Linked DNA regions of Homo sapiens. The protein of the gene in region 1 purifies or fractionates together with the protein of each later gene. This does not show direct contact. Each region holds a gene or a part of one and is shown in the gene's direction. Other genes may lie near its edges.

Region 1 (4,255 bases):
CTCATTTAGGGATGAAGCAATACCCACCAGGATATGGCTGCATGTGTCTAAACCATGGTATCATTCCACTGACCTATTTTAACTAATTGCAAAATATTCAAGTCAGTGGGGTTACAACGATAATAATTAAAGTTCTCACATTTCTCAAAAATTTGATTTAAGTAACTTAGAGATGATATGATGTCTCTATAATAATGTCCCTCTCATTTATTTAAAAGAGAAGGCCTTCTAAAATGTTTTCCTGAATGGGAGATAAAGTAATAAAATTGCAACTGCTATCCTGGAAATTACAAGTAACTTTTTGTCTGTCCTAAAATGTTGCAGCTTATGACCAACCATTATGAGCACATTACACACTCAAATGTTACTCTTCATATGTATGTCCAGCATAAAAAAATGAAATTTAAACTGCTGATTTAGACAACTTGCTTGAGTAACTTAGCAGTACCCTTGATTGAGTTTACAAATATTAAGCTTAGGTTAGCAATAAATGCCTAAATTTCTAGGTAGCTTATAGGAAATGCTTTGGCTCTCAGAGAAGGATGTAGTACTCATATATCGTACTATAATAAAGATAGCCTGTCATTAGAATCATTGACTCCTGACTTATTTTTAAAAAGTGTTACAGCTTAACAGCAGCTCTAAATATCAACTGTTAGCAGCTTGGTCTAATCTGTATTTAATGTTAATGAGTTTAGTTTTTATACTTCTATACATTTATAAGACATGGGGGCTTATATGGAGAGAAGACCGTAACCTTGTACATTCAAAAAGAGTTATCTGTGGAATAATAAATACCATTTCAAACATTTTTTAAAAGTTAACTCCCCACTTCAGGAATTAGAATTATATTAGTTTTGATCATATTTTTAAATCCCAGCTCCTACTGAATATACCTGTGAAGATAATGTGAATCCATGTGGAGATGATGCATATTGTAATCAAATAAAAACATCTGTTTTCTGTCGCTGTAAGCCTGGATTTCAGAGAAACATGAAAAACAGACAATGTGAAGGTAGAGTACTTTTCTTCAACAGTTTGCTCATAAATCTTTGGGTTATGAAGATTCCCAAGACTTCTAAATTGTGAGATCACAGGGGATTGACTTTCATCAAAATGGTGTGTATCTACGGGATACCATTTCACTTATGAGAATGAAAGTCTCTGGGGTCAAGAGCTTGTTTGTGGAGCTAAGCTAACCACGACAGAGGCTACAAAGCTTTTTCTATAGCAAATTCAGAGCTGCAGGAATTTCAATTCTATTGCTACAATACTGTTTTGAAATGCAAATAACGAAATTCCTGGTTCAGGAACTATTGGAGAATTAGTCTTGCTTCATGAAAAAATATGTTTATGATGACCCATTTCTCTTGAGTGTGGAATTTGCAATACTGGAATAGGTAAATCACATTTAGAGAGTCATGGGCTTTTGTCCTAAAACCATGTTTTAAATAGATCATAATGTATCTTTAAAAATTCAAAGTCAGGATCTACATAAATCTGTCAACTTACTTGAGATCATTTAAAAATTGAGCATGTAGGATAGCCAAAATCTTATAGTAAGTAAGTAAATATAATTACATCAGTGTTCTAACTATAGAACCATGAAATACAGACCCATATGCACTTTCTGCAAGTTTCTCCAATAAAACTGCTATTTGTATTCATATTCATATTAATGTAAGTACAGCCAAACCTAAAATAACTAAGTCTGGCTTATCCAGGCTAAATTCAAGTCTTTAAGTGCTTTTACCTACCAGCTTGCTTTTGTTATGTCTCTTTGTGATATTTTGAGGTTAAGAAAAATGATTCTACTTCGTGTTAATCAAAATGGAATTATTTAAATGAATTGATTCTACTCACCCAAAAGGGGAAAAAGTGTAGTCACGTCATGTTTATCTACATTTTGAGTTAAATGTGTATTTGGATTATTCGTGACATTTGATTGTTCCATTACTATGAGACTGAAAGATGACAACCTAGGTTTTCTGTGTTTTAGTTAAAAAATGAATTATCTTTCAAACTATGGTATTTATTTTTCCCAGGCTCTTTCTATCAATTACATATAAACACACACACACACAATTCTTTCAATATTTTAATTTCAATAACATTTATTTTCTAATATTTGTCAGTGGGTTTTTTCTGTATATATGTACTAAATTTAGAAATTATATTATTAAAGTTTTCTTAATTTTTAATTACATTCCACAGCAAATATAACCTGCACACTACATTCTTTATTTTAAATTGCTATGAATCCACTTTTTTGTATTATTTTGTAGGACAGACGAGTAACTTCTGAACTCTAATAAAATGTTCATCTATTTTTAATAAATAAAGTTTTGATTTTAAGGAAAATAGTTCTATTTCAGTGTCAAAGAAGGGTAAGACATAATTGGATTCTATAATCCAAAAATTTAAATTTGTTTGTGCCCTTCACTTATGTATCTGAAAAAATGCATAAGAAATTGCTATTTGATGTTAAAGCCCAAACACTTCAATTAGAATATCTAAAGGGAAAAAAGTAAAGAGGAATGGTGGAAGAAAATTAGAAGGGGATTAACAGTTGCTGAGTGCCAGGTACTGTTTTGGGTACTAGGCATGTGTGGAATTCCTCCATCCCCTTCAAAAGCTCATGATCCAGGCTTTCTAGAGATGAGGCGAAAATGATGGTTCAGGCCAGTATAATGACAAGTGAGGAAGTTGAGGTTGTATGAAATCATGCAGAATACTGCTTATTTGGATTCTGTACCAAAGGGAAACCATAGTGACAAATAACTGCCGGTTCAAAGTTACAGGGGCTGAACAAATCAGAAATATTTGTTGTAATCGTGATGGTTAAGTACTGACAAGATGCATTCTACTTCATTCCTGTAAAATATTTATTAAAAACAACGAAATACACTTTTCTGCATCTCTTTACTCTACATTTCAATCAAATAGCAATGTGTGGTCATGAAAATGCTTATGTGTTCTTAGGCAAAGTATCACAGTAAAGTCAACAAAATCAGAAAACCTGAGTTTAAGCCTTGACGTTGTGATTTACAAGTGTCTCTACCTCTGAGCCCTTAGAACATTGTTTGTGTGCTACGCAAAAGATAGTTATTCTTACTGTGCTGATTCTTAAGTTCTCTAATTCAAGGGAAGGATTTATCTCACAGATTTATTAGGTAATTAGGAGATTATAAGTGATAAAATGAGGCAGGGGAAATATGCTGGCTAAACACAAAAGTAGAGGAGGAAAAGAGAGGAAAATTAGATAATTCCCTAGAATCACCTGGCCTCAATCCTGGCTCTTCATAAGCCCTTAAAATTAGAGTCATGTGCCAAGCTACATGACTCTGATTAAATCACATGAATACTGCCTGTGATTTATTTATTTATGCTAGTGATTTAGAGGTATTTATTCATATATAGGCATGCAGATTTTGCTTGCTTAATTCACATCACATAACCTCAATACAGCCCTTCTTGTTACGTAGTCACTTCATATATATGAGTCCAGAAGTGTGTTAGAGATGTGCCCAAATCTTTGTTCTCTGCCAGTCATTGTGCAAAATCTGGCAATAAAAAAGGAATGTATCATAATTTATGTCCTCAAGGGAATATGAATATGTAACCACATTCCTGAAATATAAGCAACAGTGTAAGAGAGAAACACCAGGAGAGCAAAAACTGGAGAAACTAAGGATGAATCATCACTCCCATATATGGTTGGAGACCAAGGAAGGCTTTATTTCAGGTGGATCTTGAAAGATGAGTAGAAATTCTGTATGGAAAAGTGGGCAAGGGCATTACGGGATGAAAGAATAGCCCATGATACCTTCGAAGGCATGGAGGTAGGTCATCAGAAACAGCTTAAAAGAAAACCTCAAGACAGGTCTATTTGCGTGAATGGAAATCTATACAACAAACCCCCATGGCACAAGTTTATCTAGGTAGCAAACCTGCACTTGTATCCATGAACTTAAAAGGTAAAAAAATAAATAAGTAAAAATTTTAAGAAAGAAAAAAGAAAGCCCCAGGGAAGTTTGAAATTGAAGCTTTAATATTTTAAGTGGATTAATAAAAGCAATGACAATTGATAAATCTTCTACTACAAATATTGTGAAAAATGATTATACCTTCAAAAATATGACACAGCAGGTCACAGATTAAAGATGTGAAAGGACAATAAAGCTAGTAATAAGTTAAAAATAATTTTGGCTTTTTTGAAACGTGGTAAGAATAGGAGTCTGAATTGAGGGTATGA
Region 2 (3,887 bases), on another chromosome or scaffold:
AATGAGAATGAAAACTCTGGGAAGAAGTTGGAGTGCAGGAGAGGTGATTTTTCACACTCTACTTTATCATATATTTATTATTTGAACCTTTTCAGTGAACTGGTATTCACCTTATCACTTAGGTGATACATTTTTAAAAGGCAGAAACCATTTTAAAAAATGACACATACTGGTGATTTTGAATTCTCATACTGCCTTAAAAAATATTGAATGGTAGTTATCTACTGCTTTTTTTTCCTTTTTCTTTGTCTGTTCTTGAAACTATTTTGATCCCATCTGTTCTAGAGAGGAGGGGAAGGAACTGGTTACTTCGTGGACTTCTCTGTGCGGAACTGCCCCAGACACCATTTCCCCAGACACCCCAATGTGAGTATAAGAAATGTCTGTGATCGTTGACTAGAGTCACAGAGAAAAAAGAAAGAGAAGAAGGAGAAGGAGAAGGAGAAGGAGAGGAAGGAGAAGAAGGAGAAGAGGAATGAGAAGGAGAAAATGAGGAGGAGGAGAAGGAGGAAGAAATGTCTGTGAAATACAAAGTATCATCTGGGAAGCACTTAGTACCTGCCAGGCACTCTTCTAAGTGATTTACACATCAGATAACTTATTGTTTTGTTTTGTTTTTGAGATGGAGTTTCGCTCTTGTTGCCCAGGTTGGAGTGCAATGGCACAGTGTCGGCTCACTGCAACCTCCGCCTCCCGGGTTCAGGCGATTCTCCTGCCTCAGCCTCCGGAGTAACTGGGATTACAGGCATGCACCACCACGCCCAGCTAATTTTTGTATTTTTAGTAGAGATGGGGTTTCACCATGTTGATCAGGTTGGTCTCAAACTCCTTATCTCAGGTGTCCACCCACTTCGGCTGGGATTACAAATCAAAGTGCTGGGGTTACAGGCGCAAGCCACCATGCCCAGCCTATGATAACTTATTAACCCTCACACTACCATATGAGATAGATACCATTTTTAATCCCAAATTAGCAGATAGGGGAACTGAGGCACAGAGAACATAAGCGAACCATAAGAACATGATTTTATAATATACATGATATATACCTAAACTTAAAACTAAGTTTCTAACTGATTAGGATTAAAGGCTTAGTTAGAACTATAGCAGTTCGTACTAAGACCCTACGCCAAGTGGTTTTATTAATTCCACATCATCACACTCACAGGAATCCCACTTGACAAATGAGGAGGTAACTGAAAATCAGCAAAGGAAAGGTCTTGCCGATGTTCACAACCAAGCTGAGATTAAAACTTAGTTATTCTCATACAAAGTCCAGTGGGATTTTTCCTCTAATCATTTACAAATAGATTCCCATGTACCTGCCAGAAGACATTATTAATACCACCTGGCATTTGCATGGTGACCTACAGTTAAAGAAACACCTCCACATCTGTTATTGCCAGGAGAGCCTCATGAAAATCCTGCTGACAAGGAAAAGCAAGTATCTGCCTACATTTCCTGTGACAAGGGGACCTGAAATTAAAACCACTTACCTAAAGGCACTTAGCTAGAGAGTGTTAGGAAATGGAATTTTAATTATGATGCCAAGTCCAGGATTTTTCTGAGGTTTAACAACACATTCTCCCTGGTCAAAAGGGAGAAACCATCCATTAGTACCTTTGTTAGCTCTTCTAATGTCCACACTGAACCAGGTCTAGAAACCTTCTTAGCGCCCACCAGAAAAGACACCTCCCTCCCCTACTCCTATGGCCAACAAACCCTTCATGATCTTGGTGTGGATAATGTAAACCCAGAGTTGAAGCACCAGAGCTGAAGAGGAGGCTCAGGGGTAAGTGTTTTACAGCATCCTCTTGTTTAATTAATCCCTCCCACAACCTGTGAGTACATAGTATTATCCCCATTTTACAATGGCTGACTTTCAGAAATCTTTTGTAACTTTCCCAAACTCAGACAACTAGGAAATGGAGAAGCCAGGATTAACATAGGTCTCTCTGATTCCCAAACTGTACTCAGAACCTCAATGCTTAGCAATTTCTTCTAGCAGACAGCCGTCCTCTTGTCCTAGTCGATCTTTCACAGGTGGGTTTAGGAGCATCTGGAGCACAGGAGTGGCAGCCAGTTGTAGCCCTGGCACTTGGGTGGAGTCAGCAGACACTTGCCTTGACAATGTCCATGAAAACCCATCTTTATGCTATACAGATGCCCTCCTGTCCAACACTTTCCTCCAAGGGACCAGCTGAAGTTGTAAAAATCCCTCTTTGACACCATTCCTCATTGTCCTAGGCACAGGCAACTGAGGTCTCCAGTGCAGAAGGGTTGGCCTAAAGGCAAGGCAGCAATGATGTGGTTTTCCTCATCATTTCCATCACCCATGGGGAAGCCCAGTGCTGGTGCCTGCTCATGAAAAAAACCACAGCAACTTTAGTGATACCCTTCACCACCTGCACTTTCCCCAAAGTGTTAACAAGGAAAGATTGCTGAACGACTGGTGGGAATATCTGATCATATTACCCTGATTTTTCTAAAGCACTTCTTCCTTTTCTGAATGTCTGGAAGCTAACTCTGGCTGGTCATCTTCACACCACCTGGACACACACACTAACAGCTCCTCATTCCTTTGTAGGTCTTTGGATTCTGCAGAGCAGATTTGTTCTATGATGTAGAAGCCTTGGACTTGGAAAGCCCGAAAAACCTTGTCATAAACTGTGAAGTCTTCGACCCTCAGGTGGGTTGTCTAAGCAGACTTTGTCATGGCAGTGCCAGATTAAGTGACATACGTACACAAATAGTGTTGTTGCTTCCTAAAGCTCTATGAGTGGGTGTGTGTGTGTGTGTGTGTGTGTGAGAGAGAGAGAGAGAGAGAGAGACAGAGACAGAGACAGAGAGAGGGAGACAGGGAGAGAGAGAAAGAGAGAGACAGACAGACATGCAAGAAAAAAGATACAGAGAGTATCCCACAACTGGGGAAAGGAGTGCAATTGCCAGATTACACAAAAAGTATGAAAACTTTTCCAAGAATTGAAGAGGGGTAACAATTGGCAGAAAATTAAAATCATGTCCAATTCAACCAAACTTGAAGGAATTTGAAAATGCTCTTTGTAGTCGGGACTCTAGTGCTGAGACTTAGTCATTCCTAAGCTTATATTATTGGGCATAGAATCTAAGAGGAATATATCAGCCTCAAATTTATTATGTAAATGTATATAAAATAAGATGCAAAACCATATTTTGCATCTGTCTCAGAAATCTTTGGTCTATTTTTTACATGAGTACAAAGATTTGCTTCACGAAATTTTTCATATCAGAAACAAAACTTAAAATAATCCAAACATCCAATCCCAAGTTAAAAAAAAGAAAAAGGAACAAAGGGCAGGATTGTCACCATGAACATGGCTCTGTCTTTTTTTTTTTTTTTTTTTTTGAGAAGGAGTTTTGCTCTTATTGCCCAGGCTGGAATACAATGGTGCCATCTCGGCTCACCACAACCTCTGCCTCCTGGGTTCAAGCGATTCTCCTGCCTCAGCCTCCTGAGTAGCTAGGATTACAGGCATGCGCCACCATACCTGGCTAATTTTGCATTTTTAGTAGAGAAGGGGTTTCTCCATGTTGGTCAGGTTGGTCTCAAACTCCTGACCTTAGGTGATCCACCTGCCTCAGCCTCCCAAAGTTCTGGGATTACAGACATGAGCCACCGTGCCCGGCCTCTGTAGCTATTTTTTAAAAAATTAAACTCTGAACAAGGAAGAGAGAGAAGAGGTCAAGTGTTCAGCCTTTAGGAGTAAGGGATGTTGATACCATCAAGCCTCAGTTAAGAATATCAGTTATAAGGCACTAGTTTTCCAGTGTTGGTCTACAGATGGGTGCCAGGTCATAATATTGTTTCACCACTCTGTGTAGTAAAAATGAAAAAAAAATAAGGATAA

The links. The genes of interacting proteins can lie anywhere in the genome.
Region 2: the proteins of LRP1B (region 1) and HRG purify together in Homo sapiens (affinity purification with mass spectrometry, with the first as the bait; one study listed by BioGRID). This does not show direct contact.

The regions. Positions count from the first base shown.
Region 1 is NC_000002.12:140,353,102-140,357,356, reverse strand, and holds part of LRP1B (low-density lipoprotein receptor-related protein 1B precursor), read left to right. Parts: intron 1-880; coding exon 881-1,015; intron 1,016-4,255. UniProt on the Homo sapiens protein: Potential cell surface proteins that bind and internalize ligands in the process of receptor-mediated endocytosis.
Region 2 is NC_000003.12:186,672,502-186,676,388, forward strand, and holds part of HRG (histidine-rich glycoprotein precursor), read left to right. Parts: intron 1-285; coding exon 286-366; intron 367-2,587; coding exon 2,588-2,689; intron 2,690-3,887. UniProt on the Homo sapiens protein: Plasma glycoprotein that binds a number of ligands such as heme, heparin, heparan sulfate, thrombospondin, plasminogen, and divalent metal ions. Binds heparin and heparin/glycosaminoglycans in a zinc-dependent manner.